Linked DNA regions of Homo sapiens: region 1 is linked to region 2. The links come from fine-mapping of genetic effects on gene expression. A gene starts in region 2. The other region holds a variant in brackets. All regions are shown on one strand. Distances are from middle to middle. Region 1 holds the start of SF1 (splicing factor 1). Region 2 holds the start of MEN1 (menin 1).

What was found. PIP is the estimated chance that this variant, and not a neighbour inherited with it, causes the effect.
Region 1: its variant is fine-mapped to the expression of MEN1 in whole blood (TOPMed, PIP above 0.99).

Annotation. Positions count from the first base shown.
Region 1 is chr11:64,776,233-64,781,600 of GRCh38, forward strand. SF1 (splicing factor 1) reads right to left here and starts at 2,310. Exons shown (of 13, transcript NM_004630.4): 1 at 2,130-2,310; 2 at 266-394. The coding sequence starts at 2,160. RefSeq lists silencers at 1,455-1,764, 2,025-2,424 and enhancers at 2,087-2,688, 2,665-2,774. The variant C/T (reference allele first, on the strand shown) is at 2,687.
Region 2 is chr11:64,808,162-64,813,519 of GRCh38, forward strand. MEN1 (menin 1) reads right to left here and starts at 2,390. Exons shown (of 10, transcript NM_001370259.2): 1 at 2,353-2,390; 2 at 1,504-1,971. The coding sequence starts at 1,948.

The sequences.
Region 1 (5,368 bases), 32 kb before region 2:
TGCTGGACTGGGGACTGTTCTTACTCCTAAGTGAAACCCTACCTTCCTGATACTCATGGAGAACACTGCAGTTACGAACAGACCAAAACAAGGAGCTGCAAATGCAGAACTCACTGGGCAAAAACTGACAGATGATACCAAAGTCGTGAAAGTATCTCATCTCAAAAAAGATAACTACAATCTCAAACTTTCAAAAAATGCAGATCTTGCTCAGAATAAATCGTAACAATCTCAAAGTGCATTTGGATGCAGAACGTATATTTACCTATATAAGCTCTTTCTTGTTCTCGAGTAAGTCCAGGGGGAATAACTGTAGGCATTCCTGGAATCACTGTCTTCTGTTCCATTGTGTCTTGGTTCCAGCGGCTCCTCTTCCGCTTCTTACTTGGGAAGTCTAAAAGGCAGAGACAAAATCCATCCGATGTAAATACAAGTAGTTATCAACAGACAGCTAAGGGTATTTAAGGTACTACACAGAAACTCAGCAGACTGTGAAGCTGAGAGCTTAACCTAAAACTTAAACATTAAAAAAACAGAAAACAAACCTCAGAGATCAGAGATTTAAAGCTTATGGCCACTACAAGGGTATGTGGTCCTTGGTCAGGCAAGTTAACATTTCACCTTCTTTTGTCTAGAAAAACTGTCAGATATATAAACGTGGTAATCTTAATGCATATGGCTGCAGAGAGTGTTAGATAGATACTACATCAACCATGAGTGCTCTGAAATCCCCAGGGGAGACAAAAATACACTGAAGAATCATAGATTTGTAAAGCAGTCCTGATGGGACTGGGGGCTCCACCCACCTCCACTCCCCTCACCAGTCACTTTTGTACGAGAGGCCGGACCACAACTAAACCTAGTTACACCCTACCAAGTGGGAAAAGCCCAATTCTTCAACAAGATCACCTTTGTCTTCATAAGTTTAGCCAAGATCAGCATTCAGTTTTCCTGGCCAGTTGGACACTGAGGGTCTGAACTCTTAAAAGGATCTATCAAAAATTCAACAACCTATACAATAGCAGCCAAGTTCTCCTTTCCCCGTACATAGGCAGAAACTCCCTACATTTGCCACAAAAGAGTCCTTCTATTTCCCAAGGGGTACAGGATCAGAGGGAAAAGCTTTTTAAAACAAAGCGACAGGGCAGCCGATCAGACTGAGATCTAAACATACTGAACAGATTTAAAAAAAAAAACAAACTAAAATTCTCTCCCCAAAAGAGACCAAGAAAGATCAGACCCAACCATCATCTGAAGCATGCCAACCTCTCCCGGATGAAAACCCTGCCTTGCTGTAGAAGCAGAGGAGCTATCCTTGGTACGGTTCCCATTCTGGTTCCTCAAGACCAGAAGGGAGTCGCTGCACGTCATCAGGTGAGGCTTTCACGCCCTGCTGGCATTCACAGCTAGCACCCCGTCCAGCGCTGAACACCCGCCACCCCTGTTCCCGACACCAGCGGACTGGACAGCAATAGTGGGCCCCCAGTCTATACAGTTGCGCCGCACAGCCCGGCCACCTCACTGCGTCTGCGCACAGAGCGCCTCCCGCCCGCCCAGCCCTCCCCCCACAGCGCGCGTGCGCACTCGAGGCCCTAGAACCAGGCCGCGCGCGCCCAGGGGCGCCTCCGCCCGGGCCTCCCCGTGCGCGCACGCGCGCCCCTGCCGCGTGCAGCCGCCGTCGCCGCCGCCGCGCGCCCCTCAGGCGGCCGGGCCCGTCCGCGCGACGCCTCTCGCGCTCTCTCGGCCCGACTCACCTCCTCCGCCGCCGGCCGGGCCCGGCTGCTGGTCCTTACGCGGCGGCTGGGGTGGCGGCGGCTGCGGCGGCGACACGCGCTGGTAGAGCGGCGGCGGAGGGGGCGGCTGCGGCGGCGGGTACGAGGCGCCGGGGGACGGTGGCGGTGGAGGCGGCGGCGGCTGCTGGGGAGGCGGAGGGGGCGGCGGCGGAGGCGGCGGAGGCAGCGCCGCGAAGGGGAAGGCCGCGGTCAGGGCCCCCATCGAGCCCACGGGCGGGGGCGGCGGCGGCCCGGGAGCCAGCAGCCCCGCCCCAGGCCCGGGTGCAGGCGGAGGGCCCGGCTCGAAGCCTCCTTTGGGCCCGGGGAGCGGGGGCAGCCCGGGGGGGCCCAGCTTACCCAACGGCGTGGCGTTCGCTCCGGTCGCCATGGCGCCCCCGGGGACAGGCACCGGCACCTGCTTTTCCTCTGCGGCGGCTTCTCCTTCGCAAGCCTCCCGGGGGGAGGGGACCCGAATGCGCTGCCGGAGCGCGCGGAGCCCGTCCTCTCACGCGGCGGGCGGCGGCGGCGCGAGACGCACAAAGAGGGAGGAGAGAGGGCACCGCGGGGGCGGGCCGGGGGCGGCGGGGCCGGGGCCTGGATTGGGCCGGGCCGAGGCGAAGGGTCGAAATCGGCGGCCTCCGATTGGCGGAGCCTCAGTCCTTCTTGATGCGCGCTGGGATTGGCCGAACCGTTAGGCCAAGCGAGGAAATGGCGGCGGAGTTCGGTGGGCTGGGAGGTGTCGCAGCGCGCACTTCATTTGTTACTGCGTGAACTGAGCTCCGAGTCCAGAAAGGAGGGGATGGGGTGGGGCGAACTCTATGACGGAGCGACGGCGAGCTCTCTCATTGGCTGCGGTGGTGGACTCAATCAATCTCGCCTGCGTTGTAGTGTCGCGGGATTGGCTGTCGCTGGTT[C/T]CAGCCTTTTTCTACTCCCCTCCCCCAGGGGGCAGTTTCTCCGGGATTAAGCGAGAGTCGCGGCGGAAAAGGCCCAGCCGGAACGAGATTTACGGCGGGGGAGTCCTGGAGCAGGAAGTGCGCATGCGTAGATGGAGCAAAACCGCCTCTCCACCCGTCTCCCTTCACCATCGACCCTTGGGTCCAGCAAGGAAGCCCTAAGTGACGTCAACCTTTGTTCCCATGGTAACGCAGAACCTTGGGGCGGGAGCAGGGGAGGGGCTGGCGCGCGCCGGAAAACCGGCTCAGTTGACGCTGCAGGTAAAAAGACTTCCTGTTTTTTTGGAAAAAAAAAAAAAAAAAAAAAGTGACCCAAAAAGCTACGAATAGAGACGACTTATCGAAGGATTTAAAACAGTATTTGAACTGATGCAACAACATATTAGATGAAAGGTAACAGAAGGTTGTCAGTTCAAAAATTACAAATACACACTTCTATTGGAATCTCCACGGAGTTCAGAGGATTTAATTAAATGATCTTAAAATCGTATAAAACAATAACTACGGCCGGGCGCGGTGGCTCACGCCTGTAATCCCAGCACTTTGACAGGCCGAGGCGGGCGAATCACAAGGTCAGAAGGTCGAGACCAGCCTGACCAACATGGCGAAACCCCGTCTCTACGAAAAATACAAAAATTAGTTGGGTGTAGTGGTGCACTCCTGCAATCCCAGCTTCCCAGGAGGATGAGGCAAGAGAATCGCTTGAACCCGGGAGGCGGAGGTTGCAGTGAGCCGAGATGGGGCCACTGCACTTCAGCCTGGGTGACAGAGCGAGACTGTCAAAAATAAAAATAAAAATAACTACTACAGTACTGGGAAAACTTTACAAGACGGAGCAGGAGCTTGCCTTTCCAGATGACAAACATAGTATATAAAACACAATAGGCCAGTGCCAAGGCACTGGGAGGCCAAGGCGGGGGGATCACCTGAGGTCAGGAGTTCGAGACCAACCTGACCAACACGGTGAAACCCCCGTCTCTACTAAAAGTACAAAAATTAGCCGAGCGTGGTGGCAGACGCCTATAATCCCAGCTTCTCAGGAGGCTGAGGCAGGAGAATTGCTTGAACCCAGGAGGCGGAGGTGTAGTGAGCTGAGATCGCACCACTGTACTCCAGCCTGGGCAACAGCATGAGACTCCGTCTCAAAAACAAAAAACCACAATAATAAAACAATATGATATTGTTGGTAGGAAAGACACATTAGTGCAACAGAATCCGGAAATACCACAAATGTAGTATTTTATTTCAATCAGGAAAAGATGATTTCGTTGATAAATGGCGTAGAATCTTAAATTTAAACAACAAAACATTTAGAATATAATTTAGGAGACTATAAGGGTATTCTAGGGGTTGAGAGACTGCAAAGACAGGAACCTCAAACTGTAAAAAGATATACTTGATTACCCCGAAAATTAACACTGATAAAAGTCAAGAGACAATGATAGATGAGGAAAAAATATTTGCCATACATGATAAAGAGCCAATACCTGTAATATACAAATACATCTTAAAAACTAATTAGAAAAAAGGCAAAAACAATAGAAAATGAGCAAAAAATAGGAATGGACATGTCTCAGAAGAACAAATCCAAATAGCCAAGAAATATGAAAGGGTGCACAACCCCTCTGCTGTGGTTTTTTAAAATAAATAGAAAAGATGTTGGAACCCCCACAACACTTGAAACCTGGAGAGAGAGGTGACTGTGATCTCAGCCATGTATGGTTATAATTTTTTCTGAGATAATAAATTAGACCTGCTTGTTTTTCTTGTTCTGTACAATTATTGGAGAGAATTAAACATGGGACAAAAACCTGCTGCCTTCTTAATGACCCTTCTTATAGATAACTTCCCTTTTGTTGTCCTGCTTTACTTAGACCAGATGACAGCAAACCCATGACTATTACACCCTCTGTAAAAAATGTTAAATGTATGCCTCCCAAAAAGAAACACTGCTTACAACCAAATTATTTATTATTATTATTTCAATTTGAGACAGAGTCTGGCTCTGTCGCCCAGGCTGGAGTGCAATGGCACAATCTCGGCTCACTGCACCCTCTGCCTCCCAGATTCAAGCGATTCTCCCACCTCAGCCTCCTGAGTAGCCGGGATTACAGCCACCTGCCATCATGCCCAGCTAATTGTTACATTTTTGTAAAGATGGAATTTCACCATGTTGGCCAGGCTGGTCTTGAACTCCTGACCTCAGGTGATCTGCCCGCCTCGGCCTCCCAAAGTGCTGGGATTACAGGAGTGGACCACTGCACTCGGCCTATAACCAAATTACTGTAAGTACGCACTGACCATATATGAAGAATGTAATCCTAAAACTCCTCTGCCTTTGTGTGTGTAAATGAAACCTTAACTTCTCTACTTCGAAACACTGACTCCATTCATTTGGAGTCGGTGTTTCCAGGTAGTCCACCCTCATGTTTTGTGCTTGAATAAACTATTGAAATTAGATTCTGACCCTTTTGATTACTTTAGGTGGACAGGTTTGAATGTGTCCCCCAAAGCTCATGTGTTAGAAACTTAATCTCCATCCAGGCGCGGTGGCTCCAACACTTTGGGAGGCCGAGGTGGGTGGATCACCTGAGGTCAGGAGTTCGAGACCAGCCTGGCCAACATGAATCTCCTGCCTCAGCC
Region 2 (5,358 bases):
GGTAGTGATGGGCCACACTCCCTCCCACTCCCTTTCCAAGCCTGTGACCCAACCTCAGATTCTCCTGCCCACTATCCCTCCATCCCTTCCCTCCCACGTGTTCAAAGACTCTCTCCCTGTTTACACCCTCTATGTCCAACAAGATACCTTTCTGGATATCCTGTAGCTGACCCAGCCTTTGGCCCTACCTCGTCTTTCTCTGCAACTCTATTATATATTCTATGGATTTAGGGATTCCATTTTACTGCACTTACTAGGTTAAAACAGGAATGGCAAAAACAGGACGCTGGCCAACACTCTCTGGCTATACACCCACCAACAAATAACCCTCATTTATCTCTGCACTCTTTTCCTGCTAAGCTGAGAAGCAGCCTCTGATTCCTTCTCAATATGGCACACCAGGATGGGATTGCCAGTCAACCGGGCTTGGTGCAAAGCTCTTTGCAAGCCCTGACTCTTAAGCCTTTTGAGGTCAAGCCCCTTCTCTGTCTCAAACATTTTTGACCAGGTGCGGTGGCTCACGCCTGTAATCCCAGCACTTTGGGAGGCCAAGGCGGGCGGATCACGAGGTCAGGAGATCGAGACCATCCTGGCTAACATGGTGAAACCTCGTCTCTACTAAAAATCCAAAAAAAAATTAGCCAGGCATGGTGGCAGGCTCCTGTAGTCCCAGCTACTCAGGAGGCTGAGGCAGGAGGCAGGAGAATGGCATGAAAGCAGGAGGCAGAGCTTGCAGTGAGCCGAGATTGCACCACTGCACTCCAGCCTGGGCGACAGAGTGAGACGCCGTCTGAAAAAAAAAAAAAAATTTTCATAGGCCACCAGTTGCGGTGGCTCACACCTGTAATCCCAGCATTTGGGAGACTGAGGCGGGCAGATCACTTGAGCCCAAGAGTTCAAGACCAGTCTGGGCCACATAGTGAGACACCATCTCTACAAAAAAAATACAAAAAATTAACCAGCACCACGGTGCATGCCTGTACTCTCAGCTACTCAGGAGGCTGAGGTTGGAGGATCTCTGAGCCCAGGGAGACTGAGGCTGCAGTGAGCCATGATCACACCACTGCACTCCAGCCTGGGGGACAGAGTGAGACCCTGTCTCAAAAAAAAAAAAAAAAAAAATCTTCATAGCCATTATTTTGTTTAACTGCCTCAAATGCAGCCCAATTTCATCTTCTTGCCCCCTAAATCTGCTGCCGCCCTCTGTGTCTCATGCTTAGAACTCCTGTAGCTGTTCAGTGGCAAGGGTGGGGGTGCTGAGGGGGCAGAGGTGAGGTTGATGATTTGGAGCCAAGTGATCAGGCTTCACTTCCAGCCCTGCCATGCCGTGTGTGACTTTGGCATATCATTTCCCCTCTCTGGGCTTCAGTTTCCCAACTGCAAAGAGGAAAATAACACCTGCCGAACCTCACAAGGCTTACAGTTCTTAAAAGGGTTCTGTAAACCATGGAGGGTTTTGAAGAAGTGGGTCATGGATAAGATTCCCACCTACTGGGCTCCAACCTGTGATGAAGCTGAAGAGGGACTGGATGTGGGCCCGATCCTTGAAGTAGGAGCGGCTGAGGCTGTTCCATATGACATCGGAGACCTTCTTCACCAGCTCACGGCTGGAGACACCCCCTTCTCGAGGATAGAGGGACAGGTCGACGGCGCCTCGGATCTGGGCGGTGAAGCGGGCATAGAGGGCGGCGATGATAGACAGGTCGGCCACGGGAAAGTAGGTGAGGCCGCCAGGCGGGTCGGGGGCGGGGCTGGGCTGGAAGGTGAGCTCGGGAACGTTGGTAGGGATGACGCGGTTGACAGCCAGAAAATGCTCCACGAAGCCCAGCACCAAGGAAAGGAGCACCAGGTCCGGCTCCTCTCGGCCCAGCTCGGCAGCAAACAGGCGCACCACGTCGTCGATGGAGCGCAGCGGGAACAGCGTCTTCTGGGCGGCCTTCAGCCCCATGGCGGCGGGCGGTGGGCGGCGGCCTGCAAGGCAAGCCGGGGGAGGGAGGGTCGGGCAGGTTCGGCCGGGGAGCCTCCTCCCAGGGTCCGCTAAGGTTCCACCCGCCCCGACACACGCACAGCTCCCCTGCTTCCCCACCCTCTTCAGCCTCTGCTCACCGGCTTCCCCTCTTTTGTCGGTGAGACCCCTCAGCCGAGACTGCAGAGCCTTTTTGTCCCCCACAATTCCGGGACGCCCGGTACCCGATGGGGTGCGCCCCAAGCACCCCAATGAGGAGCCCCAATGGCCGCCCCGCCCCCTCTCTACGACTGTGCCCCCGGGGCTGTAAAGTCTGTCCAGAAAGCGCACCCAGGTCAAGCCCCCAAACCCCAAGGAGAGTCCTGGCCTCGGTCCCCCTCGCCCACCTCCGCGCTTACATCCCACACTAGGCACCGCGGCGCACGCCGCCCGGAGCCTGCTGGGACATGAAGTCCCGCCCCTAGGGTCGCACTACCCGCCGGGAAGTGGAGTCTGGGCCCACCCCTGCCCCGCTGAGCCTGGAAATAGTGGCGGGCCGGGCCGCTGCGCTGTGGCTTCTGGGATCTCTAGGTCCGCGGCTCCGGACACCTCCTTCCCGAGATACTCAGGGATTGGCCCTTCCCTTCAGGCCGACCAGGCAGGAAGCGTGCCCGCAGTGCCTTCTGGAAAATGTAGTCCGGGGGCACTACCTGCAGACTCGGGGTGGGAGGTCGCCGAGCTTCTGCCGGTTTTGCTGTCACGGGTCGGTCGGCAAGTTATGAGGAAAAAGATCAGGTTGCTTGATCCAGAAAAAATTAAAATAAAACAATATGAGAAAAACAGATACTTTTAAACACTGCCAGAGAGTAAATGTGTTCAGCCGCTTTAGCTGGGTATCAGTGTCTGTTAACATATAAAGATGCCTACTCTGTGTGCAGCACTCGTTTCCCACTTCCGCCCGCGAGATACTCTAACACGTGCTAAGAGTAGCTTTTGTTTGTTTGTTTTGAGACACGGTCTTTCTCTTTCGCCCAGGCTGGAATGCAGTGGCTCGATCTGGGCTCACTGCAGCCTCGACTTCACGGGCTCAAGCGATTCTCGTGCCTCAGCCTCCCGAGTAGCTGTGATCACAGGCGTGCGCCACCACTCCCGCCTAATTTTGTGTGTATGTGCATATACATAAATATATATACATATAACACACACACACACACACACACACACACATATATATATATATATATATATATTTTTTTTTTTTTTTTTTTTTTTTTTTTTTTTTGCAGAGACAGGGATTCCCAGCTACTTGGGAGGCTGAGGCGCGGGGAATCCCTTGAACCTGGGAGGCGGAGGCTTCAGTGAGCCAGAATCTTGCCACTGCACTCCAGCCTGGGCAACAGAGTGAGATTCCGTCTTAAAAAAAAGTCCCAAGTAGCTGGGATTATAGGCGTCCGCCACCACACCCAGAAAACTTTTTGTATTTTAAGTAGAGATGGGGTTTCACCATGTTGGCCAGACTGGTCTCGAACCCCTAACCTCAAGTGATCTGCCCGCCTCAGCCTCCCAAAGTGCTAAAATTACAGGCGTGAACCACCTTACCCGGCCAAAGAGTAGTTATTTGTTTATTTGTTTTGAGACAGAGTCTCGCTCTGTCACTCAGGCTGGAGTGCAGTGGGGTGATCTCGGCTCACTGCAACCTCTGCCTCCCAGGTTCAAGTGATTCTTCTGCCTCAGCTTCCCAAGTAGCCGGGATTACAGGTGCCTGCCACCACACTTGGCTAATTTTTGTATTTTACTTAGTAGAGACAGGGGTGTCACCATGTTGGTCAGGCTGGTCTCGAACTCCTGACCTCAAGTGATCCTCCTACCTCGGCCTCCAAAAGTGCTGGGATTACAGGTGTGAGCCACTGTGCCTGGCCTGTATCAACAACGCTTTGAAACTTTGAAATAATACTAAATTTCCACGGTCACTCATTTATTTGCTTATTCATTCAAAAAAAACAGATTTTTGGTACTTACCATGGGCCAAGTTCCAGACACTCGGTATATAGCAGTAAATAAAACAGATTAAATTTCTGCCCTACTTCACCTCTTCACCTCTCTGGATTTTCCTCAAAATTTATAACTCTCCTCTAATCATGAGAAAACATCTGGCAAAACAGAGTTGAGGGACATTCCACAAAATACCTGACCAGTATATCTCAATAGTGTCAAGTTCATGCCAGGCTCATGCCTGTAATTACAACACTTTGGGAAGCTGAAGCAGGAGGATTGCTTGAGGCCAGGAGTTCAAGACCAGCCCGGGCAACATAGGGAGACCCGGACTCTACAAAAACAAAAAATTGACCAGGTGTGGTGGTGCTCACCTGTAGTCCCAGCTACTCAGAAGGCTGAGGCAGGAGGATTATGTGAGCCCAGGAGGTCAAGACTGCAGTGAGCTGTCACGCCAGTGCACTCCAGCGTGGGCAACACAGTGAGACCCCGCCTCAGAAACAAAAAACAAAAGAAATCAAAAGAGCCAAGGTCATGAAAGATAAGGAAAGACCCACAAATCATTGCAGATGAGAGACCAAGGAGACAGAACAACTAAATGCAATGTGGTGTTCTGGATCAAATCCTGGAACAGAAAAAGGACATCAGTAGAAAAACTAGTAAACAGGGTAACCAGCCTTCCAAGCTGGCCCAGAACTGAGGCAACTCGGGAGTATGCGACTTTGAGTTTAATTTAATTTAATTAATTAATTAATTTATTTATTTATTTATTTATTTTTGAGACAGAGTCGCTCTGTCGCCCAGGCTGGAGAGCAATGGCACGATCTTGGCTCACTGCAACCTCTGCCTCCCAGGTTTAAGTGATTCTCTTGTCTCAGCCTCCCGAGTAGCTGGGATTACAGGCACCCGCCACCACACACGGCTAGTTTTTGTATTTTTAGTAGAGATGGGGTTTCACCATGTTGGCCAGGCTGGTCTTGAACACCTGGCCTTAGGTGATCTACCTACCTCAGCCTTCCAGAAGTGGTGGCATTACAGGCTTTAGCCACTTTGTGTTTCAAAAACAGTCAAAGCTAAGCTCAGTGGCTCACACCTGTAATCCCAGGGCTTTGACATGCCAAGGCAGGAAGACTGCTTGAGGCCAAAAGTTCCAGACCAGCCTGAGCAACAAAGCAAGACCCTGCCTCTACAAAAAAAAAAAAAAAAAAAAAAAAAAAAATTATTTTAAATTAGCCAGGCACAGTGGTGTGCACCATGTAGTCCCAGCTACTCAGGAAGCTCAGGCAGGAGTTCGAGGCTGCAGTGAGCTGTGATCGCACCACTGTATTCCAGCCTGAGTAACACAGTGAGATCCTGTCCCTAAAAACAACAACAACAAAAACAAAAGCCAGACTGGGCACGGTGGCTCACGCCTGTAATCC